Regions from separate parts of the Homo sapiens genome. Here all the other regions are linked to region 1. Evidence: fine-mapped expression QTL. A gene starts in region 1. Each other region holds a variant in brackets. All regions are shown on one strand. Distances are between the middles of the regions.

Region 1 (4,068 bases):
TCCCCCAGTCTCTGTTTTCTCATTTGCAGAATGAATCTAAGCACATGAGATAATTATATGTGAAGCAGTGCCTGGAATGAAGTACACCTCTGTAAGCACAGGAGCAGCAAAATATTCACTCCTACACCCTTAGTGCCCAGTGCAGTACCCAGTACACCACAATCACACCAAAAGTTTGCTGAGTGAAGCAGAGAACTCACTAAAGCCAGCCTGAGGTTCAATCAAAATTCCTGGGCCCAACCTGTAAGTGGGCCCCTAACTTACTCCAAACCAGGGACCCCCATCCCCTAAACCAAGAATGGCCTTGATTATTGACAAAGGAAGGGTCTGTTCATATGTTTCAGGTAAGGCACAGCCTAAGAATCTGCCTCTAAGAAGCCTCATCACATCACAGTCCTGTGTTCATTTCATCCCAAAAGATTGGCACTTTGGGCTGCCCTGGCATTCCATTGTCTCTCTCTTCATTTTTAGAAGCAACAAGCTGACAAAATGACATCTCAGGCACCTGACTTTTGTAAGTGCCCTTTAAAGAGGCCTGGGAACAATTCCCACAGCTACGACTCTACTCTGCTAAGGCAAGATTTCTTAGCTGAAAGGTATCACCTACTAAGAAATCCATCACAGAAACAGATACAGTAACAGAGTCAGAGACAATTCCACTATCTGCCTTCATGTGGTTCCTGATTCTTAAAACTAAAAGATGGACTGAGCTATTTTTAAATGGGGAGACTGAAAAGGCACCAAAAACGTTCTCACAATCCAAAGCACTCATCCCTAGAGCACGCTTATTTGGCCAGAAAAAGAAACTCTCTGGCTCTGCAAAAGTGAAGCAGAATGCAAAATTGCATCTCTCCCCTTGTACCAAAAGGAAAAAACGCAAAAATGGTTTTACAAAAGGTCCAAGAATCTTTGAAATACGTTTGAACTTCTTTCTGAGAATTATGGATATTCCTTCTCAGACCTTTACAAGGATAACGGAAGAGGTAAAAAGGAGAGCTTGGGAGCAGGAGAGGGAGAGAGTTGGGATATGTACATTCTATTTTTAAACCCTCGCCCACAGTTTAGAGTAAAGGAACACTCTGATTCTCTACTCCCACCCCTATCACCTTCTGCTAAACACAAGAATCAGAACCTGCGCACGTACTGATTCCAGATTTAGAGATTACTGGCTGCCAATACTCCAAGGAATCGCAAGCTAACCAAGCATTCCACCCAGGGAACCCGGCGGCCTGACTAGGCTGGAGCTGCGTACAGGGAGCGAAGCAGTCACAACCCACCTTTTCCCAAGGGGAGGCAGCGCCCCCTCGGCAGGGCACGCTCCATTCTCACGGTTGGGCACTCAAGGCTGAGCAACTCTGCCCCTAAGGGAGCTGGAGCTGTGGACACGATGGGATCTGCCCGCTGGCTGCGGCGCGCTCGGCACTCTGGCCCCACTGCTGGGACACCTGCGTGCCGCGCACGCCCACGCCCACCCGCGCTGCCCCAGAGCACCACCCGCGCTGGGTCACCTCCCGACCATCCCTGAACGCAAAAGGCGGAGCGACGGGTCTCTCTCTTCATCTGATGGTTGCTGGTTCGCCCGCTTTACGTATCCTTCCTGCCTCGGAGGCGTCGACACCCGTCCCCCAGTGTACCGGGAGCAGAAACCCGGCAGACGCGCGGGCAACCCGGGCTAAGCGCCACCTCCCAGTTCCTCCCGCCCCGGAGCCGCGTCCCCGAGGGGCTCGGGACACTCACTCTTGAGCGCGCTTATGAGTGACTTCCCGTCCTTGATGAGCTCCTTGATGAATTTGTTGGTCTTGTCCAGCTCTGCTTCGTGCGACTTGAGCGTCTCTCGGAAGTGCGGACTATCGAGGCAGCAGTCGCTGAACTCGAGCGCTGGGAGCCCCATGGTGCGCGCGGCGCCCAGCCGGGGGGCGCGCCTCCGCCGGGGCCCGGGCCGCCCGCCGCCCAGAGCACTCACGCGGCGGGACCCCGGCCGGCTCCCCCGACGGCCGCCGGCTCCACAGGTGTGGCGCTGGCTCACTCCGCGCGCGGTGTCCGCCGGCGCGCAAGACTCCCGAACCGAGCTCGGACCCGGCCGAGGTGCTGCTGTTCCGGGCGCGGGCAACGGAGCGGATCGCGAGCAGGAAACGCAGCGCGGACCCGCAGCGGCGCCGGGAAGCGAGCGAGCGGGCGAGCGAGTGCAGACGCCGCCTCCCCGCCTCCTTCGCTAGCTAGCTCTCGGCAGCCTCGAGCGCCCTCTCACAGCAGCCTCGGCCGCCCCGCCGGTGTCTGGGCCGCTCGAACCTGCTAGCGATGACTTAATCCCCGCCGGGCCAATCAGCGCACCCTCCCCTGCCCGACCCTCAGGCCGCCCGAGGACGCCCGGCCCTTCCGCGGTCTTGATCCAATCAAAGGGGCCTGGAGGCAGGGTCTGCGGCTGGGGGCGTGGCCCTCGCCAACGCCTAGGTCCGCAGCGCAAACTCCGCCTCCTCTTGCCCTCCCAGCGTTGCAGACCCCGAAACCTAGGGGTGAGCGTTGCTGTGCACCCGCCCCCGCTACCTTGCCCGCCTGCTCCAGCCCGAATCCGAGCCACGCATGGCGAGTCTGCTGGTCCTGGGGGCCGAAGAGCCTCGATGTGCCAAGCATGAAAAACCTGGGGACTAGGGCTGCAGTTCACCACCGCCTGCCCTGCACTGCGGGGCAACCGATTTTACACTCAAAATACAGCCCCCTGCTCCGGGAGAATCCCGAGCGACCAAACGCTCCTCTTCCAGTCAGGCAGAAAAATGTTATTTGCATCTTAAAATTACCAGCTCTTGCCTGCAGTCTTCCCGCCCCCTACGGTCCGTCCCCCTCACGGCCACTCCTGCTCAGAACCCGCCCACGGTTCCCCTCAGCCGAAGGAGCTCACATCATTACTAGAATTTCAGCCGCCTGTTATTTTCCTGCTCTGCATCTAGCACAATTTTACATAATAAGATGACAGTCTACTGCCTGTCATCCTTCGCTACACGGTAAGCCCCACGAGGGCAAGTGCCCCTGCAATTTTCTTGTCCGCTGTTGCATCCTGGCACCTAGCACAGTGGCTGGCATTTAATAACAGATATTGAGCACTTACTATGTGCTGTGTGTGCTACGGTGATTGATAAATGTAGAATAAATGAATGGATCCTTTCCCAGAGCCATCTCCACCTCCCACGCCCAGTGCGTTGCCCTGTAGTCCCTCTGTTCGACCGCAGGACTCAATTCTGGCATCTCACTCGTTGCACTTGTCAGGCTGGGTCCCACAGGGTGTCTAGTGCTGAATTGTTAACTCCTGGAGGATAGGGACTGTCCTTGAATAAATTATCTCTATGTCTAGGAACCAGCAGCCCTCCTTCAGCTACGTGGGGGCTTCATGTTTGTTTGGGTTGGTTTGTTTTTTAAATAGGTCTGCTATGTGCAGGCACTAGCCTAGATGGTAAGAATACAAAGATGAATAACAGAATGAATTTAGCTGCTGGTGGTATTAGGTGAGATGGAAGCAAACAAGCGATAACCATGCCTTGTGATAGGATAGAAGGCCTGGGTGCTTGGGAACATGGATTTTTCACTCAGGAGGGGTCAGAGGTGTCCCATCTATATTAAGAAAGCAATTAATGTATTAAATTCATAAATGGAGCATGGTGGCTCACACCTGTAATCCATAACTTTTGGAGGCCAGGTGAGAGGATTGCTTGGGGTCAAGAGTTCAAGACCATCTTGGGCAACACAGCGAGACCCCCCCCATCTCTACAAAAAATTGTAAAATAAATAAGTAAATGTATAAATAAGTGAATGTGATCTCTTTGATAGGTGTATCTACAAATTTAGACTTGATAGCAGGTCCAGACAGCTATCTGATAGATAATTACAACCCAAAAACAATTGTTCTTCACTTGCCAAAGATGAGAAAGATCTAGAATGGAAACCCTATGAAAGTAAATCTGTTTAATGCTTTATCTTGAGCACCTAAAGGTAGGTGTTCTGGTTATCTATTAATACAGAATAAATGATACCAAAAGTTAATGGTTTAAGACAACAGCAATCATTTTATTTTCTCTC
Region 2 (4,068 bases), 33 kb before region 1:
AGGAGAGGCAGCAGGATCACTGGCTAACTCCAGAGCACCTTTAACCTTCCTACTAAAATCTGTCCAGCTCATCTTTCTGGGTTCTGGTACTTCATTCCAGGTTACAGCTGCCTCATTAGCTATTCCAAACCTCAGTCACACTTTTGGGCCTTCATATAAACTCATTTTTCGCTCTCCCTCCTCAAAAACCTGCTAAAAGTAAAATACAAACTTACCACATGACCTAGCAATTCCACTCCTAGTTACCTACCCAAGAGAAATGATACATCCACACAAAAACTTGTACAAAAATTTCATAGTAGCAACATACATAATAGCCAAAAAGTAAAAATGATCCAAATGTCTATGAACTGGAGAATAGAAAAACTAAATGTGGGCCAGGCGTGGTGGGTCACACCTGTAATCCCAGCACTTTGGGAGGCAAAGACGGGTGGTTCACCTGCGGTCAGGACTTCGAGAACAGCCTGACCAACATGGCAAAACCGCACATCTACCAAAAATACAAAATTAGCCAGGTGTGGTGGCACATGCTTGTAATCCCAGCTACTTGGGAGGCTGAAGCAGGAGAACTGCTTGAACCCGAGAGGCGGAGGTTGCAGTGAGCCGAGATTGCGCCACTGCACTCCAGCCTGGCGAAAAGGGTGAAACTCCATCTCAAAAAAAAAAAAAAGAAAAGAAAGGAAAAAAAGAAAAAGAAAAAGAAAATGTGGTATAGCCACATGATGGACTACTATTCAGCAATAAAAAGGAATAAGCTCGTGACACATGCTTCAACATGAATGGACCCGAAAAACATTATGCTAAGTGAAAGAAGCAAGACACAAACAATCATACGTTGAATGATTCCATTCATACAAGATGGCCAGAAATGGCCCACATACAAAACACAGATTAGTGGTTGCATGATGGTGAGAGCAGAATTCACTACAAATGAGCAGGAAGGAAATTTTTCTGAATAAAAAGTTTAAAAAAAAAAATCTGTTCAGCCCGGGCATGGTGGCTCATGCCTGTAATCCCAGAACTTCGGGAAGCCAAGGCAGGTGGATCACCTGAGGTCAGGAGTTTGAGACCAGCCTAGGCAACATGGTGAAACCCCGTCTCTACTAAAAATACAAAAATTAGCTGGGTGTGGTGGCACATGCCTGTATTCCCAGCTACTCGGGAGGCTGAGGCACGAGAATTGCTTGAACCCAGGAGGCAGAGGTTGCAGTGGGCCGAGATCACACCATTGCACTCCAGCCTGGGCAACACAGTGAGACTCGGTCTCAAAAAAATAAAAATAAAAAATAAAATCTGTTCAAACCTATGCTTAATAATATGCTTGGAAGAATTCAGTAAGTTTCCATTCAGTGAGTGAGCCAATGAGTGAGTGGGTGAGTGAATGAATGAAAACTAGCTTCCCAGAAGCATCCCTGGTTAGACCAAAACTAGGTCCACATATTTCATTCACCCTAGTCAGCCTCGGCAAGTTATGTGTAATAGTTACGGAATAGCAAGTTATTTGTAATATATATATGTGTGTGTATATAATATTGGGTCTCGTTCTTTGGATGAAGTTGAACCATATAAAACTGTCGTTTTTTGTAGGTCAAAATTGTTACATACTGGCAATTTCATATGATTCAACCTATACTTGCAATATTTGATAAGGAGTAGAGACAGAACAGGAACTTTTAGGTCAGGCTGACTTTACGGCTGCAGGCTCCATCCCACAGCCTAAGCTTCAGTCTCCTCATGTGGAAAATGGGAATAATAACAGGATCTTGTTCACAGGGCTGCTGTTAAGGATTACTATGACAGTGCGTGGAAAGCACCTACCAGTGCTGATACAAAGTCACAAAGGAAGTGTTGTGTAAATACCTGCTGGTCCTATCCCTCTCTGGAACTATACACTCCTCAGTGATCAAGGACCAGGCCTTTGACTTCTTTTGTTTTTGTATGTTGCCTATTTGTGCGTTCCCTTGGCATGCAGAATGGGATGTTCACTGCTGGACTCCTCCACAGATAAGGCTTCCTACCTGCTATTAAAGCCCAAGAACACATCCCCAGATGCCACCAGAGTCCCTGCCTGCTGACCTCTAACTGCTCCAGGGTGAACTGCTGACGTGCTGCAGGAGGATTCTTATGATTCCATTCCCAACATCCTCCTTGTCGCATGTTCGGCAATAGCGTGAGGTTGAAGGAAGTGTCATCACAGAGATTTC[C/T]GTCCGGCTTATTTCTCAACAAAAATGTTTGGCTGCTATGCAACCAGTGTTTTAATAGATGACGGGACCTTTCGTGAAAGGCCAGGTTTCTATTAGCAACAACAAAGGACAGGAGCTATGGGGCAGATGCAAATAAAATCATACCTCTGCATCCTATTTGAAATTCCTCAACTCATTTTCAGCTATCATAAAGGCAGCCAAAAGATTCCAAATGGGGAAACAATGAGACAAAATTAGAGGTGCCAGACTTCACCAATAAAAATGCAGAACAACTAGTTAAATTTAAGGTAAACTACAATTATATTGGGACATATTTATTCTGAAAATTTTTCATTATTTATCTGAAGTTCAAATTTTACTGGGTGTCCCATATTTTATCTGGCAACACTAGATTTAATTGGCATCTCAGATCACTATTTTATTTCCCAAACACAAGACACAATGTACTTTCAGTTCAATTAACCATTCTTTCACCAGAAGAAACTATGCAGACCAGAAAGATAAGGTTCCCATACTTTATGACAGTCTGCGCATGAGGCTGGATTAAGGGGTATCTCCCCGCCACTACACACTGGAACTTCAGTTGGCCCTGCATGGCCCCAAAACACTTAATATGGACTAGAGGCTTACTGAATCCTTGAATGAGCCCTATGGGGTAGGCCCAAGTATTATTTTCTCTACTTTACAGGTGAGGAAACTGAGGTTTGGAGAGGATGAAATCTAACTCAGGTTTGGGCCTCCTAATTTAAACAAACAAATAATGTCAATGGGCCTCTCATCAGAGTCCCAGACTTGGTCTACTGTCTACTCTAGTGTCCCTGAGCTAATTCTAAATTTCCAGTGCCCTAGTATGTGCATTGTATTTCAATACAGCTGTTAAAAAAAAAAATTTGCCAATGCCTACTTTTTCATCAATAAAACTTCAATCCCAAAAACACTCCAGAGCCACTTCAACTGACGATTACAATTACATGGAATCCCCGCTTAACATCGTCGATAGGTTCTTGGAAACTGCAACTTTAAGTAAAACAACACATAACAAAACCAATTTTTTTGTCCTCAACATTACAATAAAAACTACGTTGAACAAAATGACATTATTCAAGAATCCATTTTACTTAAAGCCACAGTTTCCAAGAACCTACCGACAATGTTAAGTGAGGACTTACTGTACTTTTTCTTTCCTCCATCTACTGGCAGATCTCAGCAAATTGACTTCGCATGGACCTCTCCACTAAAATTAAGGACCAGAAAAATAAAAGGAGACCAAACTTTAAACAAGGTAAATCCTGCTAACTGGGTACAGCTCTGTTAAAGAATGCTCAGAATAAAATGAAAACGAAATCTGAAAAACATCAACTTCCACACATCTGTTTATAGCCTTCATCACCAATGATAACAGGATGGGGCAAAATTGTAGCCATTACTGTAAAAAGAAAATTATCTGGATATTGTTGTAAACAAATACCTCATTCATATAAAAGGTACCACAGAATAGTTTCTCTCATCTCAACTCTCACGGCCTCTGGAGCTTCCAGGGATTTAAGAGGGAACAGATCCCCTCTGATGTTCTTCTTTCAATCTAGTTTTTATCCTCTCTCCACGAGGTTACGGAATCTGACCCGCACCCACTCCAGTCTCACCAGACAGAAGGCAACTCTGCACACAGATCCCAGACCAATGACTGGCATTAGACATAAGTATCAACAGCACGGATTTAAAGTCATTTTTTAAAAATGCAATGTTTCCCTAAGGGCTGTGGGCTTCTCTAACCACAAAAGTTTAAGACAAGGTACTTTCGTCCCTATTCCTTGCAAGGAAAACAGTTGGGTACAGTGACATTCTTTGAACACAAGAGCAGCCA
Region 3 (4,068 bases), 440 kb before region 1:
GCTTGAGCCCAGGAATTTAAGACCAGACTGTAGAGACCTCCATCTCTACAAAAAAATAAAAAAAATTAGCCAGGCATGATGGGACACGTGTGGAGTCCAGGTTACTTGGGAGGCTGAGGCAGGAGGATTGCTTGAGCCCAGGAGGTGGGAGCCGCAGTGAGCTGAGATTGCACCACTGCACTCTAGTCAAGTGAGACCCTGGCTCAAAAAAAAAAAAAAAGTAAGTAGGTAAATAAATAAATAAGCAAGCCAAGAAAGGGCCTTGTTTTTTTCTCAAGTTGATAGGCAACTGACAGTCTATGGGAGGGCTTTTCCCTTGAGATCTCCCTCTACTGCTTTAGGATAGGCACAAAAATGGGAGAAATGACAGAAGAGGTGCTTTTAAAGGGGGCCATTCCTGTTGCCCAAGGAATAGGAATGGGTAGGGTTGCCAGATAAAATACAGGACACCTAGTTAGATTTGGATGGCAGAATAAACAATAAATATTTCTTTAGTATACGTTATGTCCCAAATATTGCATGGGACATACATATATGAAAAAATTTTTGTTGTTTATCTACCATCCAAATTTAACTGGGTCTGCTGTATTTTTATTTTATTTGCTAAATCTGGCAACCCTACCCAAAAAGTCTTATCTTCTTAAAAGCTTGTCAGCCCAACAAGTCAAGTGTCCCATAACTCCTTCTGAAAGGTCTTAAGCAGTTTGCTTTAGGTAGGGTTCCTACCAAAACAGACAAATCCTGTTGGCAGAGAGATTGTATTTGTAGGCTTTGGCTCTGATAAAAAAATAAAATAAAAAATCTCCACCAGGCATCATTGGTTCTTTGGCTTCCTATTCTCCACAGTATATCTCAAAACTGGATACAGAGGGCCTGGGGTAGTTTTCGGCTGCTCCTGTCAACAGTGCCCTTCAGACCTCAGCTGGGCCTTTAAGGGCATGAACAAGTTGGGATCCTCCTGCTAGTTCCCTTTTAATTTTCACCTCTGAGCATGGCACAAGGCCTGGAAAGCACTCACAGGAGTTTCCCTCAAATGCCCTTGCAAACCTTGCAAAATGATGACCCATTCGCCATCATATGGCACTACAGGGAGGTGGGACCAGCTAGACTGGCAGGTGGAAAGGGGTTGATCATTTAGGCATAATTTCCAGGGACCCCTGGGCAAATGCAAGTTACGGGTTTGGGGCTATCGGCTTTTTTGGGGGAGGGGTGAGCAAGTGAAAGAAAAGGGAAATACGGAGGGAATGTGTCTCCAGCACCCTTTCTCTACTGTGCTGCAAAAGGCATCTTCATTCCTGACTTTGAACAAACAAGGTCTATAAATGGTTTGAAGAGGGGACAGTGATATGGTTTGGCTCTGTGTCCCCACCTGAATCTCATCTTGTAGCTCCCATCATTCCCGTGTTGTGGGAGAGACTCGGTGGGAGATGATTGAATCACTGGGGACGGTCTTTCCTGTACTGTTCTCATAATACTGAATGGGTCTCACGAGATCTGATGATTTTAAAAAACGGGAGTTTCCCTGCACAAACTCTCTTTTTGCCTGCCGCCATCCATGAAAG[A/G]CGTGACTTCCTCCTCCTTGCCTTCTGCCAGGATTGTGAGGCCTCCCCAGCCACGTGGAACTGCAAGTCCGTTAAACGTCTTTTTCTTCCCAGTCTCGGGTATGTTTTTATCAGCAGCATGAAAACAGACTAATTCAGACAGTAAGCAATTTCCAGAGGAGACATCATTCAGAAGTTCATGGGACCACTGATTAGATCTAATTCAATATTTACTTATAAAGGCTTTGCTCAGGGAAGGAAATCTGAAGCTTCATGCTCTGGAAGTGGATTTGAGGGAGGCCCCAGTGGACCTGAATAATGGGTGTATACCACCACCTCTTTGCTATACACTACAGTGTACAGGTTTCGGCCCTCTCTGTTCCTCTGATGGGCTAGCTCCTCAGCAGTGTTGCTGTCTGTGCTCATCTGGGCACACACATTTAGTCCAACTCTGCCTTGACTATTTTTTTTTTTTTTGAGATGGAGTCTAGCTCTGTCACCCAGACTGGAATGCAATGGCACGATCTTGGCTCACTGCAAACTTTGCCTCCCAGGTTCAAGCAATCCTCCTGCCTTAGCCTCCTGAGTAGCTGGGATTACAGGCGCCCACCACCATGCCTGGCTAATTTTTGTATTTTTAGTAGAGATGGGGTTTTGTCACGTTGTCCAGGCTGGTCTTGAACTCCTCACCTCGGGTGATCTCCCCACCTTGGCCTCCCAAAGTGCTGGGATTACAGCTGTGAACCACTGTGCCCGGCCTGCCTTGACTATTTCAAGAGGGCAGCTTCCTAAAGGGTGTCCAAATAGTGCTATTCTAACAATGGCCAGGGGAGGAGGTACTGAGTAACTGTGACCCCAGACACACAAGATGGCAACAGAATGGCAGATTCTATTGCCATTGCCCTCTGTCAATCTGGAAATACTTTGGGAGGTAGGAAGAAGTAGGAAGGAAAAACAGTCTGGAAATATTTGGGGAGATGAAAACGAGTGAAGAGGTAGAGATACTTGACAAGAAACAGGGCCCCAAATCTCAGAGTCACAAAAAAGTGAGTACCATCAAGGCAGAGAGGACATTTTAGGATTTTAGCTGAGTGATTTCACTCTCTTGAGTCTCTTAACCCATTTTGTCCAAAGGGCCAATATTTTGAAGATTTTTACTCCATTTTGATAAAAATGAAGGAATTACATTTTCCTAAAGCCCAAGTTTCTCTAATGAGTAAGTGAGGCATTTTGGAAGCTGACTTGTCTGTGGTCACTTAGTTTCCTCTGGTTCAGGTCCTCATGATCTAATGAGAATAATCTATGCTATTTCTGGTATCTTAGAAAGTTGATGTCTCCCAAAGTGCCCAGAAGATGTCCAAGAAATGATTAGGAAATCACTAGAATGTCAGGAAGACATGATCTGAAAATTTCCCTTATTTATAGAGTGAGAAAAAAAAGAATTACTGAAAATCTCCTTCCCATCATCCAGGACAAAGCCAGGTAGAAAGCTGTATAAAACCTAAAAGAGCAAGTCAGGCTCTGGGCTGGGAGCTGCACGGAAACTCAAAGTTGGGGTTACCCACGTGTTTGGAGGAAAGAGTGCTGAGCTGAGGGGGAGAAGTCCTGAATTCTGGATTGGCTCTCATTTAGTCATAGCATTGTGTCCAAGTCACCTCCCTGTGTTTTAGTTTTCTTTTTCCACAGTAGGGTTCAGGCCATTTCTCTTCTCATTCTCACACGAGGATAGAATGAAATGATAGATGTGTAAGTGCCTAGTGGGGAATAAAGTAATATATGTATCTGTATATATATAAATAGCATGGGGTTTTCTTTTCTTCTAAAAGTGAAACTCGGCTTCATAAATTATTTAAGCCTCTCTGCTGGATCCACCCTTTGGAGAAAAAGACAGAAGGGAAAATACTCCCAAAGCCCAAAACGCTTCTGATGCTTATAACTGGGCTCTACAATTTGGTTGTCTGAAAGCTGAGACTAAGCTTGAGAGAGAAGCACGTTTAGGAGCTCCACAGCATAGGAATTCTGCAGGATCCCTATTCGTTCTTTTCCCGGTTGTAAAGAGCTCTTTTTTTTTCCCAAAGAGCACAAGAGCAAAAAACTTAAGTGCGGAAGTCACAAAAGCAGGGAAAACTACAGCATGGCCCTGAGAAGAGGAACTAGGTCAAGCTGCTCTCCCTCAGAGAGAGGTAGTGCCTGTTCCCAGGACAGCTCAGGCTTCATGACACACAGAGACAGAAGCAGGCTGGGAGCATGGATGGTTTCGGGAGTATATGGGGGACAACGAGGCATAAGCCGTGAGCAATTTAAGAGAAATCGCTTCGTCTCTCAAGCTTTTATTCTATGTTCGACGTCTCTCCCCCAGTGGATCTGGTCTAAGTGACTGGGTGTCAGTGCTTAGGGCCAGGGGCCCAACCCCACAAATAAATATTGCCTGACGCTGCCTGATAAACATGAGAAAAGAAAAGGTTGGCACATGTCCCAACACTGTTTCCTCTTATGTTATCTTACACCAAAGTGCAGAGAGCACATG
Region 4 (4,068 bases), 270 kb before region 1:
GGAATTATTCTTCTACTCTCTCCTTCACTACACTACTCAATCTTCTAGACCCAGCACAGATTAAGCATGAATATCATACTTTACATTACAGCTTTCATATACACACATATTTCACCCTATCAGGACTCCTTACAGAAAAGGAACAGCTCTTTCTAAAATTTAATCTCTAGCACCTGACATCTGTTCTAAGCAGCAGACACCCCACAAATGTTTGCAGCTCTGGTCAGAAATGAAAAACTAAGGATTGACACCTATTAGACTCTTAATTCTTCCTTATATTAGAAATTCTCAAAAATTGACCCTATCGCCATACAACCCAGCAATTTGCACACTCGGACATTTATCCCAGAGGAACAAATATATGCTCACACAGAAACTATATATGAAAATTTATAGAAGCTTTATCATAATTGCCCCAAACTGGAAACAACTCAGGTGCCCTTCAATAAATGAATGGTTCGACAAAGTGCAGTACATCCATACAATGGAATATTACTCAGCAATAAAAAAGAACTATTAATACATGGAACAGCAAAAATAAATCTTGAGAAAATTACACTGATTGAAAAACAATGCCAATCCCAAAAGGTTCTGTATTGTATAATTCCATTTAAATAATAATCTTGAAATGACAAAATTATAGAAATAGAGAACAGATTGCTGATCGCCAGGGGTTAGGCACAGGGTGCAAGGTGGGAAGTGAGGTATGTGCTTGTACAACATCACAAGGAATCCTTTTAGTGATGGAAGTGTTCTGCATCTTGACTAAATTAATGCCAATATTTTGGTTGTGATATTAAAATTGTGTTTTGCAAGATGTTACCTTTAGAGGAGACTGAGTAAGTGGTACACAGGATCTCTATATTATTTCTTACAACCGAATGTAAATCTACAATTATCTCAAAATGAAAAGTTTAATTTTTACAAAAACTAACCATATTTCAAATCTTAACCAAAAAAAACCCAGATACTCGTTGCTAGAGTACCTCGCAAATAATCATAGTTTTAAACAACAGATCTCACTCTAACTAGCAATACAATAGGGTTTTGGCTACAAGAAGTGAATGACTCTCTCAAAAAGAGGTGAAGACAGTCATTCTGGCCAACATGAGAGAAGAGATTTCTTTACACAAGAAAGCTATTTTCAGAAAGTGGGATGGCAAAAGAAATTACAAATACTAACACAAGAACTGTCCCTGTCCAAAACACTGAGCTGCGTACCCCAAGTGATAGTCCCTCTCTACAAGCCAGGGCTTCCATGGGGAGGAATAACAGCCTCTGTGAAACCTGATCTGTTTGCCATTTAGGTCCATGTGATTCATGGAGGCTGGCTGCACTCATATCTAAAAATACAGGAAATCTGCAGCCTAAGCAAATTTGGCTCATGGACTCATGGGCTTTTGATTCAAATACTGCACATTTGGAGACACTGCTTTGTATTTATATCAGCCAGTGGCAAAGGAGGTTCTGCTGCTCAAGTGACAGGTATTCGGTTGAAATCTAGAAGCAAAGAGGATCAGAAGATTTCTCTGGTTATATATATTTTATCTGAGAGTTACATGACACCTGCTCAGTATCAGGAACATGAACTCTGAGGTCCTCTGGAGCCCAGAATGATGCCTTTCCTTGGGCATTGGGTGTGTCCCACTAAATACCTGTCCCAAAAGAGAACGGAGGGAGTCATAAGCTATTAAAGACAGAGTAGGGTGTGGTGGTCACATGAGTGACTGAGTGCCACTTGGACCAGAGCACTGAGCCTACAGACAGAGAGGGTGTGGTGTCTGGGCCCTGGCATTTTTTATTTTGTCCAGTCCTACTCAGAACCTTTCCCAGCAGTGTCTGAAGCCATGACAACTGACCGATGGGGCAGATGACTTCTAGGTGACAGCTCACGGACACCCCGATTCCTTTGCCACAGGCTGTATCTACTCACAGACCTGGTGACTTTTCAGAGTGGGCCCCCCATCCAGGGACCTGCCTAGCAGAGCCACTGCGGCACTCACCCATCAGGACACTCAGCAACTTCTGCACTCTGGAGTTGACACCCACAATTCGATACAGCCCTTGCTCGTTGATCCCTGAGGAAAGAAACAGTGATGATTTAATTAGAGGCACGTCAGAACACAAGTCAGGCCAATCCAGCCAAATGCACTTTTTTTTTTTTTTTTTTTCATTTTCTCAGTCCTCCTAAAAGCTGCTCTAATTAAAGTCCCCTGTCACTCAGCTCAGCTCTTAGCAAACGAGTGGGATTTGGTACAGCTGTCTAGGATTTCACGGATGTGCTGCACACTTCAGCCCTCATGTTAGTTCAGTCATCAGCGGCGAAAGAAGCTTTCCTTTCTCTTGCCAAAGGCAGCATCTGAAGAGTTCTAAAAGATGCAAAATGTACACTTTTAAATATGTCATATTTAACCAATTTTTAAAATTAAAATGCCAAAAATGA[C/T]ATTAAAAATTCATACAACAGAAAAAGACACTTTATAATCTATTTTTACACAAAAAATGAAAATACGGAGGTGTAAGAATGTTTTTAATTTTAAGGAATGTTAGCCAAGACTGAGAAATTAGAAGATCCATTCATTTATAATACAAATATTCTTTATCAAAAAAGACCACCTTTATTTCAACCCAAGGAACTGTACAATTAGACTAGTAAGGGTTTACTTTTAAATTAAACATCTAAACAAAAAATCAAAAACTAATCCACTGCAGTGTTTCTGTTCATTTAAATACATGGATTAGATCACCACTGTACCATTTACAAAAGAAGGCAATTTAGACCAGGTGACTTGAAATGATTTTTCTCCTATTAGTTCCAGGCCCATCATATCTGACCCCTCTCAAGTAATAGAGCTCCAGCTTCCTATTTTATTCCTCTGATGTCCATTCTTCAACCAGTAGCCAAAGTGAACTGTCTAAAGTGCAAATTAGTTCATATCACCTCTTCTCTTAAAACCCTCCAATAGCTTCCCATTGCACTTAGACCATAATCAAAACTACTTACAATGGCCTATAAGGCCTATACTATCGAGCACTGACTACCTCTGATTGCATCATTGACCACATGCATTCTGCTCCACACACTGGCCTTCCTGTCACCTCAACATGCCAAGCTCATGGCCCCACCTCATAGCCTTTGCTCCAGCTGTTTCCTCTACCTGGACTGCTCTTCTCCCAGAGCTTTTCATCATTCAGATCTCAGCTTAAATGCAACCGCTTCAATCTAATGCAATCCACAATCAACATTACTGGTCATTCCCTTACCCTGTTTTCTTTCTTTATAGCAGTTAACAATATCTGAAATTATGTTTGTTATTTGATTATTTACTTGTTTTTTCTGTTACATTCTCAATAGAATGTAAACAGTAATTGTGTCCTGTTCACCATTACATCCTCAGTCCCTGGATCAGTATATGGTACATGATAATAAACAAAACACGAGATTATACTCCATCAAGGCCAGTATAAAATACTTGGGGGCCAAAACACAATCTTCCAAAAGAAACTCAGGAAAGGACCAATTCTGCAGTACTTTCAACAAGACCTATGTAGACATGGAACTAATGAATAAAAAGAAGTGGTCTGGAATGATAGAATTTTACAGCTAAAAAGGACCTGTAAAATCATGTACATCATTCTGCATGATTCACGGACTAGGAGTCCCTGGTCAAAAACTTCAAAAACTAAGTGATGGGTCCCAAGTTACTCAGTGGCAGAAACTTGATTCAGTAACATGTCAGCTTGTGGGCTTGAAAAGTCTTAAGTGTCTCTACTTCTTCTATCCTTGTGCTTTCCCGGGACTTTACACAATCCCACCTCCCACTGGACAATTGTCAAATCCCAGAGAGTATGGGAAGTCTGTTCATCTCTGATCACCATAAATACGTATGCACATACACACACTGCAATCGGGAGATACCCACTTTTTTCAACTATTTACGCTAAAATGGCACCTAACTCATACTGTCCTTATTTCTTCTTTGTGCTCAATGAAGACTTTCGTAGAAGTTAAAATACATCATTTCCATTTTCATTTTAGAGGGGGAAGAGGAACTTGTACACCTCTTCTTC
Region 5 (4,068 bases), 66 kb before region 1:
AAAGACCATAAGCTAAGAGTCAGTGGTACGAGTTCTAGTCTCAGCTTTGTCCCTATCCAGTTCTACAGCTTTGACGTGGTCACTTAACTTTTCTGAGTCTGTTTCCTTGTCTGTATAATGAAAATTTCAGACTAGATAATTCCAAAGCTGTCTCTTTTTCCAAAGTTGATCCCACAACATGACTACTAGACACAAGTGCCTCAAACCAGCTTGTTCTGTGCATTTGTAGCAAACAAAATAAGAACAATAATATATAAGCCCCACTATATACAGGACACTCCAAGATGCTTACGAATTCATTTAATTATTTTTAATGGTCACAACCATCTTGAAATGTAGGCATTATTGTCCAAGATGATAAAAGCAAAACTCAGAGAAGTTCAACAACCTGTCTGAGGTGACACAGCCAATAAGCGTGGCTAAACCTAGATTCTATCCCAGGTTTACCTGACCTCATACCTGCATTAGTATATCATTATGCCTTTGGCCATCTCATTATAAAATTAACTTCCTTTGTATTTCTCTGTTCAATCAAAAGGTAAGAACAATGAAAGCTTGGCTATAAGGAGGAAGAAAAATGCAAAACCTATTTCCTTGTTAAGGTACCATACAAACATTACTACAGAATCAATCAATATTTTACCCTTAACTTTTTTTTTTTTTCTTTTAGATGGAGTCTCACTCTCTTGCCCAGGCTGGAGTGCAGTGGTGGGATCTCAGCTCACTGCAACCTTTGCCTCCTGGGTTCAAGCAATTCTCCTGCCTCAGCCTCCTGAGTAGCTGGGATTATAGGTGCCCACCCACTATGCCCAGCTAATTTTCGTATTTTTAGTAGACGGGGTTTCACCATGTTGGCCATGTTGGTCTCGAACCCCTGACCTCAGGTGATCCACCTGCCTCGGCTTCTCAAAGTGCCAGAACTACAGGCATGAGCCACTGCGCCCAGCCTACCCTCAACATGTCATACCTGCAAACACTCAGATTGCTATCTGCCAATATCCCTGCAGGGAAAAATGAAAGATCTGATTACTGTGAAATTATGTACATAAATAACTATTCTTTTCTTCTGCTTTCATCTGAAGCAATGTGAGGGGCAAAACTGTTTTGTATTGTTTGAGTTAGTCCTAAGAAAAGAGAATGAGCTGGAGTATAAATATATAACTATTCTACCAAGGCTGACGATCCAGAATCTCATAAACCATGATGCCCAAAAAGGAACAAGAAGAATCAGGGATCTTACGAAATACTCAATACTGATTTCACATTCAAAAGTATCTTCTACTGCAGGGAAAAGATAGGACTAGCTCACCCTTAAGCTCCGCAGCTGCACAAAGTACCAAAGGGCAAGTACAGGGCACAAGGCAGGAGAAGCAGGCACAACTGGCCACTGCAAGCCTAAAAACCAGGCCTTCTTATCATCGCCAAGTGAAGCTCAAGTGAGACGTGAGAGTAACAAGATACCAAGTTCGAATGACGTGTTCACTACGAGGAACCCAGGGTGGGTGGTAGAAGAGGAAAGCAGAAGTGAACACAAAGCACTAAGGCTGGTCAGAGGGAGAGGGTGAAAAAAAAAAACAGAATTTTGCCAAGATCTTTCTTCCCTTCCTTAATTCCTCTCATGGGAAGAACAGAACTTTCCAATAGAGTATCCTCCACTGAGCTTAGAGATACAATGGGAAACTTTCTCATGACGTCTACCCTTTTGTTTTCTCTTGCCAAGTAACTTAAAAGGAACCTAATCCCAGGCCTTCTTGCCTCCAAACTTCATTACTTCATCCCAAGAACTCAGAGGAAAAAATGGAAAGAGGATAAGGTGAAGAAAGAGTACTGACTACAGAAGTTCCAGATAATGAATTTTAGACAAAAACCGTTTTGGTTTCCAAATGCGTTCTGCGAGAGATTTAAAGGGTGCCTGAAG[G/T]ACACATCAATGGGGTAAGTCACCCAGGAAAAAACAGGATTTGAAATATGAAAAACCTGAGCTCTGATCTCAGTACCACCTGGGCTACTTCCTCCCTACCTGACCTGAGGCAAGTTACATAATTGTCCTTCAGTTTCCATGTCTGGAAAGTAGGTACGATAATACCAATCTCATAAAACTGTTTTAAAGAATACATGAAATAATACCTGTAAAATGCCTAGTATGGTATCTGATCCAAAGGTTTTCTAAATTGGGAAGGGTGGCAATAACAACATGAACCATAAAGTCTTATTTATATTTGCAATTTCAAACTCCTTTGAACTACTCCATGGGGAGACTAAAACTGGGGTACCCTGCAATTCTATTCCAATCCTTACTCTTCTAAGTAACCCGGAGACAACTTCTGTGAAAACACAGGCCTCGAGATGTCTCAAAATACTCAGTGATGCCAAGGAAAACTATGGAAATTACTTCAGACTGAGTGCATGGGAGACTTCTTCTTACTTGAAGCCTCAAACAGAGAAATGAGAAGAGGTGGTCTAATTAGCATAGGTGGTCTAATTAGCCCAGGTAAAGGGCTTTGAGCTCCTGCCTTACAGAGTATCTTGAATTCTGGCATTGGGAAAAAGGAACATCTCTTTAAAGAGTAAGTTGTAAATGATTTATATGACTGGTTCATCACCGGGGAAAAAAGCTGTCAGGCTTTAAGGAAGCCAGCTCCTCTCTTCAGAGGGGAAGAATGAACCACAGATTAAGTGAAAAGCCAAAACCCCAGAGAGATCATTAACTGAGTGAAGCAGCAACTTGGCATCACCAGTTCAGAGCCCCTGCCCAGGATGCCTGGACCCAGAATTAAACATTAGAGGAGGGAAGTGGGTTGATGATATCTTACTTTTGCTCTCCAAGAATCCAGACACCAAGTCAATGTACGTGAAGATTCCATTCCCAAGAACCAAGAAAGGGTACCAATGCCCTGGATTCAGATGCCCTGGCCTGGGTTTAAATCCTGGCTCTGCCATTTACTAACTCTGTGAATTGCTTCAACTCTGCGTACCTGAATTTCCTAATATATAAAATGGGTGTAATACTAAAACTAATCTTAGAGGGTTTTGTGATGATTTGATTGTACAAGTTAATAACACAAATAGAATCTAATTGAGATCACTGTAAGAGCTAAATTAAATGAAAATTATTATTATCCATCTCTTGGTGTTGGTGGCTAACCACTATTGGGTTTTTATTATGTATCATGTGCTAACCATGGGTTACCTAATTTCATTCCCCACAAACCCTGTGAGACAATGTGTGAAAAGTACTAAGCTCAGGGAACTCCATGAACATAGAAAATGCTCAATAAAAAGGATCCACTCCTTGCTATTATCATTACCAAATCACGAAATCACCAAATCAAATCCAAAACACCATTTCCCTCCATTTTGAAAAGACACCTGGGTAAAAGACAAGTCAAAGAAATTGTGAGACTTAACCACCCTATAAGCATCTATCTGGGTAATATGTCAGTTGGATGTTTTTGATGAATCAGAGACTCTTCTTGTATCAAATAGACTTGATATTACCTTGACTATTTCACTTTGATAAAGATTGCAAGACCCAGGAGTTAAATGAATGGGGCCACCTGAATACTCTCTTACACGGGGTATCTAGAACCAGAAGAAAAAGAAGACATCTCTATACCATAAATTCTATCTCTGATGGGTTAAGGTACAAATGTGCTTTGAAGAACAGCCATTCCAAGTCCAGAAATGTTTTCATGTTGTTAAAGCATTAACTTCAAATCACTTCATGAGATAAACAGAGGCTATTTCAAACAATGAAAGAAACATCAAGAAAAAGAAAATGATTTAGTACAGATCAAACTTGATTTACCAAAGAAAAGCAATCCTTAAAAGCTCTCCTATTTCTGATCTAATCCTCTTCTATCAGATGGAGACAATACATCCCCTACTAGCCCCAGGCATCCTGGCTCTGTCAACTGACAGTGTTCACACGTGAACCAGGTGGAACAGAGTCTCAGTATTATAGAGCTCTGTATTAACAATAAACTTGGTCTACACAGGATCATAGCACTCTTTGGGTGATATGGTAGATTGCTAATGGCCACGCACCTTTAATGCATGTTCCTTTGCAAC
Region 6 (4,068 bases), 250 kb before region 1:
ACAGAGCCCACATCACTGAGGGAAAGGGGAATATTAGGCCATGGCAGAGGCATACACTGGCTGCATCTGCCAGTCTAAAGCTAGCTGAGAGAGAGGGTAGATTTGTCAAGTGTCTTTTAGGACAAGCAGAAAGGCTTCTGATTATCCATGCAAGTCCAAGGAGTACCACCACCAGTCATAGCTTTGGGGGCCAGGGTCTCATCAAACAAAATAGCTGGGAACTCAAATAATAAAATATCTGCAAAAACAAGCTGTTCCTGCCCCTTCTTCTCTCTCCAGCCCCCTGCCCTCCGAGCCAGGGCTATTCTAGAGCTGGGGTATTACAGCTCAACTAAATGTAATTCAAGCTCAATGCACCACAGCAACTGTGTTGCACAGGCAACTCATAATGAAAAGTGAGGTGTAGAAAGTCAGCACCTAGGGAGAGCTAGAATTATACCACCTCGCCTGACTGCGGCTCAGAAGATGAAAGTGGTGGCCACGGAAACTGCATGCACAGGAGAGAGGAGAAAGGGGAAAGAAAAAGGGTGTGGGGAGGAGGGCAGGAAGGAACGCAGGCAAGGGAGGGAGGCAGAGTGTCTGTCCTCTATCAGCTCAGACCTGGCAGGCCTGGAGAGAAAGCTGGAGGGGATGCTGCACTCAGCTGACTGCCTCGTGGGCCAGTGCATAGGCGGCCAGGCCACTGTGCCCATTAATGCCTTCCACCCTTCTCAGGTTTAAAAGGGGAAATGTTCTATTTATAAGCCACCGACCAGCAGAGGCCTGGCAGCCTCTGGATGGTTCTGATCCCAAAAGGATCCTGGTTACCGGTGGCTGCCTCCTCCTGCCTCTCAACTGTGGGTGTTCTAACAGCAAAAGGCCAAAGGTGACTAGAAGCAAAAGAAAAACAAATCCTCTTTTCTGCCCTCTGCTGCTTTCATGAGACGGTGGATTTTTGGTAATGGCTGAAGGCTTTAGATGTCTTTTAAAAATAGTGGCCCAGGCGATCCCATCAAGGCTTTCCCTACAGTTTTCAAGCCTAAATCTCCTTTTCTGTTTTACAGATCAAGGGAGGCTGAGGAACAGAGATGAAGGAAATGTACAGTCAGAGGCACAACAATAGGAAACAGAGCAATGGTAATGATGTCCCTCCCCATCTCCTCTCCTGGTCCTCAATCTTGTCCTCATAAAACAAGGCAAACCTGAATAAAACGCCATCAGGGAGTTTGCTCTGAATGACGGCCTAAAGAAGGATGAGTGGATGTACAGAAACAACATATAAAGCATTATGTTGTGTTGCCAAATCCCTGTGGGAGAGTGGTGGGCCACACTAAGGGTCTGACCCTGGGGAAGCCAGTCAGTGAAATGCGTGACCCTTGTGCACCCAGCACTGTGCACAGGTGTTTGAGGAACCACTGAGGGCTCTAATGAGGTGGTGCACTAAGAAGGAATATGGGATGGCCCCTCAGCCACAAAGAACTAGAGGGGTTAGATGTTGGAGTCTGATGATGAAATTCCTTCCAGCCCCCATGGGTGGACCACATATGAACAGGATGGCAGAATGGATCAAAGATTTCAAGCATATGAAGTGTTGCAGGAAAAAAATGACCCTGGCAATGAGGCAGGCTAGGGTTTGAGTATGAGCTTCACTACTTCTCAACTGTGCTCCCTTGACCTCTTTAAGCCTGTGAGCTCCTTTGGAAACTCAGTTGCTGTGAACAGCATTTGTACAAATGGCAGCCCATCGTGTGACACTTTCATGCTCCCTCTCAAAACCTCATGCCATCCCATTTAGACTAATTTTAAAAACTTAGCCTTGTGTTAAGCCAAGGGTTAATAAACTACAGTCCCTGGGCCAAATTCACCATTGCCTGTTTTGTAAAACAAAGTTTTACTGGAAAACACCCACACCTGCTCATTTCCATATTGTCTGTGACTGCTTTCACACTACCATAGCGGAGTTGAATACTCCTATAAAAATAAAAATATTTACTATCTGGCCCTTTACTAAAAAAAGTGGACCCCTGTGCTAAGCAATAACATTTGTAAAATCAGGGGATTGGCCAGGC[G/A]CAGTGGCTCATGCCTGTAATCCCAACACTTTGGGAGGCCGAGGCAGGCGGATCACCTGAGGTCAGGAGTCCGAGACCAGCCTGGCCAACATGGTGAAACCCCATCTCTACTAAAAATAAAAAAAATTAGCCAGGTGTGGTAGCAGGCACCTGTAATCCCAGCTACTAGGGAGGTTGAGGCAGGAGAATCACCTGAGCCCAGGAGGCGGAGGTTGCAGTGAGCCGTGATCACACCACTGCACTCCAGCCTGGGTGACAGGGGTCTCAAAAAAATAAATGAAATAAAACAAAATAAAATCAGGGGATTTCAGAGAACTTATGTTCCCCCACAATACACATCAAAATAAATACAGAAGTCTAGATGGTAATTTAAAATATACTCTCTCAAATGACCTAGTGTACCACCAGTGGTGTGCACACCCCACTTTGAGAAATACAGTAACGAGGATTAAATGAATGAACACTCATAAAGCACCAAGACTGAGAAACAGTAGCAGGTTGTCTTCCTCCCTTCAAGAGCAGTGTTACCAATCCAGCTGGCTTTTCCTTTCCAGTGGGTTTTTCCTTTTGTTGTGGGAGTAACTGGCCTGGCCAGATGATAAGAGTAATAACCAAGAGTAATTAGGCACTTACCAACTAATGTGCAGATACTAATGTGCTGAACTTTCATTCTTACAATGAGTTTATGAAGCAGGGGTATTATTATCCCCATTTTACAGAAGAGGAAATGGAAGCTTAGAGAGGCGCACCACCTGTCCAAAGTTCTACACCCAGGATGCTATTCTACACCAGCCACACATTACTCCTCCATGCAAACCCTCTCTCTAATCCACGTGGCGGAATCTACCCAAAGAGAATGATCTGAGATACGTACAAAGGCTGATGTACAAGGCCAATAACTGATGAAATTAATAACTTTTGAAGCTATTATGAATAACATAGGCCAATGTTATTTGTAATACCAAAAACCTGGAAAGAGCATTAGTCTAACAATGATAAATGATTCAACAAATTAAGATATAGTCCAATGACAGAATATTAAACAACCATGACAGGTGATACTTCTAAACATTTCATGACATCAGAAAATGTCTGTAATTTTTAAAGCAGAATACAACAAGCATATTCAACATAATGCCAGTTAAATTAAAATTCATACTGACATTGACAAAATACATACAAGACATCATTTAAAAAAGGCAAGAAGGAAGTATCTCTGGGAATAATATTACCAATGATTTTTGACTGAATGTTTCAAAATCATTTTGCTGTATTTCTGTAATATTCTACAATGAGTTCATATTTCCTTCTTCAATCACTGCTCTTCTCCCCACCTCCCAGTGTGAATGACAAATTGGCAAACTGCAGTGGGTTCTTCAGCATTTTTATTCAAATATAAAGGATTCTTATAAAAGCACTAGATTAGGCCAGGTGCAGTGGCTCACGCCTGTAATCCCAGCACTTTGGGAGGCCGAGATGGGCGGATCATGAGGTCAGCAGATCGAGACCATCCTGGCTAACACGGTGAAACCCTGTCTCTACTAAAAACTACAAAAAAATTAGCCGGGCGTGAGGGCGGGTGCCTGTAGTCCCAGCTACTTGGGAGGCTGAGGCAGGAGAATGGCGTGAACCCGGGAGGGGGAGCTTGCAGTGAGCGGAGATCATGCCACTGCACTCCAGCCTGGGCAACAGAGCAAGACTCCATCTCAAAAAAAAAAAAAAAAAAAAAAAAGCACTAGAGCACTAGATTAAAAACAAACCACAAGGAAAGAAAGGACTAGGACTTGGATGCAAAGAGGAGGAAGTGTTATATTTTTTCTTCTTCTGGGGAGGAGAGAAGGGAGGAAATTTCCATTTTTCAAGTGTAGCTCACTCTCAAATCCATGAGCTCTGGGCATGTAGTCTGCACCCTGGGTACTTCTGTAGATGGTTTGAATATGACATACACCCACACGATGTAATTGGGCCATCTGTCTATTGTTCCCCTGTGGTCTGAACCTCCACAGCAGATCACATGAGC
Region 7 (4,068 bases), 78 kb before region 1:
TCACAAAGGAATTGACCAAGGAGAGATGGGGAGAATAACCCCTATGGGAAGAGGGGACAATTTAAACAAAAGCACAGAGGCAGGACACTGGGCTGCACACACGGGAAATAGTAGGGCCAAAAGAAGGGGACAAGCCATAGGCAGAGCAGGAGAGGTAGGCAGAGCTCTGAAGAGGCCTAGGGAACACAATGAGGGCATGAGGCTGCAGGAGGCAGCAGAGCAGAGTCTCTGTCTCCACAGAGGAAGGGAAGGAAAGATCCAAGTGAGGTGGCTCTGGCTGGGGCCTAGTTTAGAGGTAGCCAGGGTCTGAACCAGCAGTGGTTGGCGTGGTGAGAAGAGTGTGTGCAGAAGAACACCCGTGGGGTTTGGGGACTAACTGGGTGAAACAAATCATCACATGTGGGTCCAGAGGTTGTGCCTGGATGACGGGGACAGCAACAGCATTTTTAACAGAAACAGGGAGCATGGGAGGTGAAGCAGACTGGAGGAAAGAGGACAGAAACACGGCAGGATTGAGGCACCAGCAATGCATACAGATTAGAGATGCCAGCAGACATCAAGAAACTAAAGAACTGGAGAGGGGCTGGGGCTGCCAGAGGGAAGTCTAGGAGTCATGTTCATGTGGGTGGTGGCAGAAGCTAGGGACTGGAGAGATTAGTGACAAAGAGAGGCAGACCTTCTGGTTGGGGAGGAGAAGCCCACAAGGAAGGGAACCTTGAGAAGATCCACAGGACAAAGAAGGTGAGCAAGGAAGGGACGTTCAGAAGGGGATGAATGAAGCATGGAGAGCACACTGTCAATGGAGGAGGAGAGAATTTCAACACAGAGAAGGAATGTTAGCAAAATCTCACGGCGGCTGTTTGAAAGTATGCACACCTTCTCAAGCACCATTTGTCTTTTTAAAAGAAAAGCCAAATACAAATGGAAATGCTCTGGGAGGGGAGAGATAAGAGGTGTGCCTCCCCTGCTCTGAAGTCTTGGGTCTTTTTGGTGTGAGAACCTGTCTTACCCAAGAGTGAGAACACAAGAGTCCACACCTACTTCACAATGAAAACCTACTGGAATTGCTTTAGCTAGTGAAAATTATCCTGAGATGGTTTCAATCTTTCAAATCATTTGTCAAAACTGCTGACCTTGACTCCCATCCCTTTATGCCCTTCTAAAGTGTTGTTTGTGGCTCAGAGAAGAGGGTAATAAACACATTTGATAAAAAATCAAGTTAGAGTTGGGCATGGTATCACCATGGAACCAATAAACAACATGGAAGAGACTTCCAGTAAATTTCAGATCATTACCTCTAGTTTAAAACCAATTTAGTGCAAAGATAACCAATTGCTCCTGAGATCTCTAACACACCCATGTTTGTCCTCTGACAGTCATTACTTAGTAGGGCCAAGAAACCAAGTAGGCGGGAAAGAAAGAGCTGCCTGGCCCATAAATCGGATGCCCACTGGTTAATTCCCACAAGCCATGGCTAGGTTACATAGTGAGGGAGCAGGCCCCTGTCTTAAGGAACTTCCAATTTTGTAGACTGCTACAGGAAAACCTAACATATAAAAACCATGCAAAGAATCATATACAGAATTAGGGTACAGATGTTCAAAACTAATGCCATCCTTTGCCTCACTAAGGACTCATTATAAGCAAAATTCTTTCACACTGTGCTCACCTCGGCAGCTTCCACGCCACCTACACAACTATGATGTTCACACAGCCTTACTCTAACACATATGTTAGACAAAGTGAGGAGCGCCTGCACTCAGCTGATGTGCCAAGGCTGGAGAACCACCTATGGTGAGAATCTGACCACAGAAAACAAGGAAGAAC[T/C]GGAAGGGAGTAAAGGAGGAAAATGGGACTGGGAAAACCACAGGGCCACACACGCTATTCACTTCAAACAAGCTTTTGTTTGGTTCAAGGTTCTGTGGTCTTAAATTTAAAAGACCCCGGGGAGTGATGGCCACCCAGTCCTGTAATCTCCTATTACCATAAGCAATGTTGACCAAACAGCTCAGAGAGTATCAGATTCACTGTCCAGATAAAACCAAAACTAGTGTCTAGAGCAACTTACAGTTTAATACCAGGCGGCTGAGAGAGCTAGCCTTTTGCAATACAAATGAAAGAATTCCACGTCTCACTGTGGGCAGAAATCAACTTCTCCAACTGAAGTTCAAAATTCCTTTCTCCCAGATCACTCCCCTTCACCAACTAAAGCTTGCCACCTTCAGACACTGCCATTCAATTGGATTGAACAACTGTGTGTGGAGCCCCTCCCAGGTGGTAGGCACTCTTCTAGGACAGAACTAACCCAGCCCAGCCCCTGCCCTCATGGGCTTACACAGCCCCACCTCTGCTCTGAATCAGGATGCCTGAGCTCACACACAACCCAATTCTCAACCCTGAGTATCTTCCCTGATGTTCACTCCACCAGCAATGTTGCACTTCCCCACCTCCAGGTGTCCAGATGGGCCAAACCTCCAAATGCCATCTCATCCATGGAGTCCTCCCAGGCCCACGCCAGTCCACCTGCAGCACTGCCCACCACCCATACAACACAGGTGCTGCTTCTCTCCCTTGAGCCTCTTCGTGGCACTCTATTTGTGCCACCTAATGGCAGTTAAGACATCATCATCCTGGCCGGGCACGGTGGCTCACGCCTATAATCCCAGCACTTTGGGAGGCCGAGGTGGGCGGATCACCTGAGGTCCGGAGTTTGAGACCAGCCTGACCAACATGGAGAAACCCCGTCTCTACTAAAAATACAAAATTAGCCAGGCATGGTGGCGCATGCCTGTAATCCCAGCTACTCCGGAGGCTGAAGCAGGAGAATGGCTTGAACCCGGGAGGCAGAGGTTGCTGTGAGCCGAGATCGCGCCATTGCACTCCAGCCCGGGCAACAAGAGCAAAACTCCGTCTCAAAAAAAAAAAAGACATCTCCATCCTTTGCTGTATTCGCTGTGTGACCTAAGCTGAGGCAGCTTCCCCAAGGCTCAGGTTCTGTATATTGAAAACAAGGAGATAACAGTACCTAATAATAGTAATTTTAAAAATAGCCACCTTTTATTGAGATCTTACTGTGTATCAGAGAAATGCTGTGAAATTTACAAACATTGTTTCATTTGACTCTCAAAATCCCATGAGACAGGCACTGTTATCCCCGTTTCACAGATGAGAAAACAGAAGGTGAGAGAGGCACAGTGATTTGCCCAAGGTGCACCGAGAGCAAGCAACAGAGCTGAGATTCTCACTCTGGCAGCCCCACATGGGGCCCTTCATGAATCACCCCCCGCTACCCATTTTTTCACAGACCCCTTCTTAGGTTTCCTACCCACCTCATAAGGTTGTTCTGAGATAAGACGTGAAAAGTCCTTAGCACACCGAGTGGTTCTGGATCTCACTGTCCCCCCATGGTATCCTCCTTTAAGGGAGAGTTATTCACATACATGTATGCTTTAAGCATACTAATCAATACATATTGAATTAATGAATGAAGAAAGAGAAAACAAGACTAAAGGACATCTGCCAAACTACTCAAATAAGATACCAAAGTGTCTTACAAGTGGTTACTCAACATCCTATATATAGATTCTCACAGGACAGCACAAAATGTAAGTCTCTTTTGCTCCCAAATGTCTATGAGATGCAGTCTTCATTCTGGGGTATAAAGGGGAAGTGGCAGGGGTGGTCACAGCAGAGGAGTGAGCAGGAATGACATAGCACATCCTAGAAGCAGCAGGCCCAGTTCTGCAGCCCTTACTAAGATAAAATCCCCACTGAAGGGAAATCCCATCCAAATCCTCTTTGCCAGAGAGGAGAAGAAGGTCAAACAGACTAATCCTCAAAAAGACCTGAAATTCTGGCTCACCTGGGCCACACCAAAAGACATTCCCCTGGGAGCAAGAGACAGGCACGAAAGGTGGCATGCCCCACCCTCCCACCTATGCACTGGTGACTCCTCCTCACCCGACACATATACCTCGGCACCCCTCTGAGCTTGGATACAACTCCAGCCATGTGACCTTGGAAAGGTCTCAGGCCCGTGAGATAATACCAGAACCACCCTCACACAGG

What was found.
Region 2: its variant is fine-mapped to the expression of ARHGAP26 in whole blood (TOPMed, PIP above 0.99).
Region 3: its variant is fine-mapped to the expression of ARHGAP26 in whole blood (TOPMed, PIP above 0.99).
Region 4: its variant is fine-mapped to the expression of ARHGAP26 in whole blood (TOPMed, PIP above 0.99).
Region 5: its variant is fine-mapped to the expression of ARHGAP26 in whole blood (TOPMed, PIP 0.99).
Region 6: its variant is fine-mapped to the expression of ARHGAP26 in whole blood (TOPMed, PIP above 0.99).
Region 7: its variant is fine-mapped to the expression of ARHGAP26 in nasal epithelium (TOPMed, PIP 0.96).

The regions. Positions count from the first base shown.
Region 1 is chr5:142,768,585-142,772,652 of GRCh38, reverse strand. It overlaps ARHGAP26 (Rho GTPase activating protein 26), which reads right to left and starts at 2,276. Exons shown (of 23, transcript NM_001135608.3): 1 at 1,738-2,276. The coding sequence starts at 1,891. RefSeq lists an enhancer at 802-1,637 and silencers at 1,933-2,052, 2,063-2,472.
Region 2 is chr5:142,801,709-142,805,776 of GRCh38, reverse strand. The region is part of intron 1 of ARHGAP26 (Rho GTPase activating protein 26); the gene reads right to left. Among named protein-coding and RNA genes, the nearest start is that of ARHGAP26, 33 kb to the right of the region's middle. The variant C/T (reference allele first, on the strand shown) is at 2,205.
Region 3 is chr5:143,207,731-143,211,798 of GRCh38, reverse strand. The region is part of intron 21 of ARHGAP26 (Rho GTPase activating protein 26); the gene reads right to left. Among named protein-coding and RNA genes, the nearest start is that of ARHGAP26-IT1, 17 kb to the right of the region's middle. RefSeq lists an enhancer at 4,064-4,068. The variant A/G (reference allele first, on the strand shown) is at 1,563.
Region 4 is chr5:143,039,826-143,043,893 of GRCh38, reverse strand. ARHGAP26 (Rho GTPase activating protein 26) reads right to left here. Exons shown (of 23, transcript NM_001135608.3): 14 at 2,004-2,078. Among named protein-coding and RNA genes, the nearest start is that of ARHGAP26-IT1, 150 kb to the left of the region's middle. The variant C/T (reference allele first, on the strand shown) is at 2,444.
Region 5 is chr5:142,834,857-142,838,924 of GRCh38, reverse strand. The region is part of intron 1 of ARHGAP26 (Rho GTPase activating protein 26); the gene reads right to left. Among named protein-coding and RNA genes, the nearest start is that of ARHGAP26-AS1, 32 kb to the left of the region's middle. The variant G/T (reference allele first, on the strand shown) is at 1,919.
Region 6 is chr5:143,020,345-143,024,412 of GRCh38, reverse strand. The region is part of intron 12 of ARHGAP26 (Rho GTPase activating protein 26); the gene reads right to left. Among named protein-coding and RNA genes, the nearest start is that of ARHGAP26-AS1, 150 kb to the right of the region's middle. RefSeq lists an enhancer at 2,418-2,507. The variant G/A (reference allele first, on the strand shown) is at 2,049.
Region 7 is chr5:142,846,221-142,850,288 of GRCh38, reverse strand. The region is part of intron 1 of ARHGAP26 (Rho GTPase activating protein 26); the gene reads right to left. Among named protein-coding and RNA genes, the nearest start is that of ARHGAP26-AS1, 21 kb to the left of the region's middle. The variant T/C (reference allele first, on the strand shown) is at 1,828.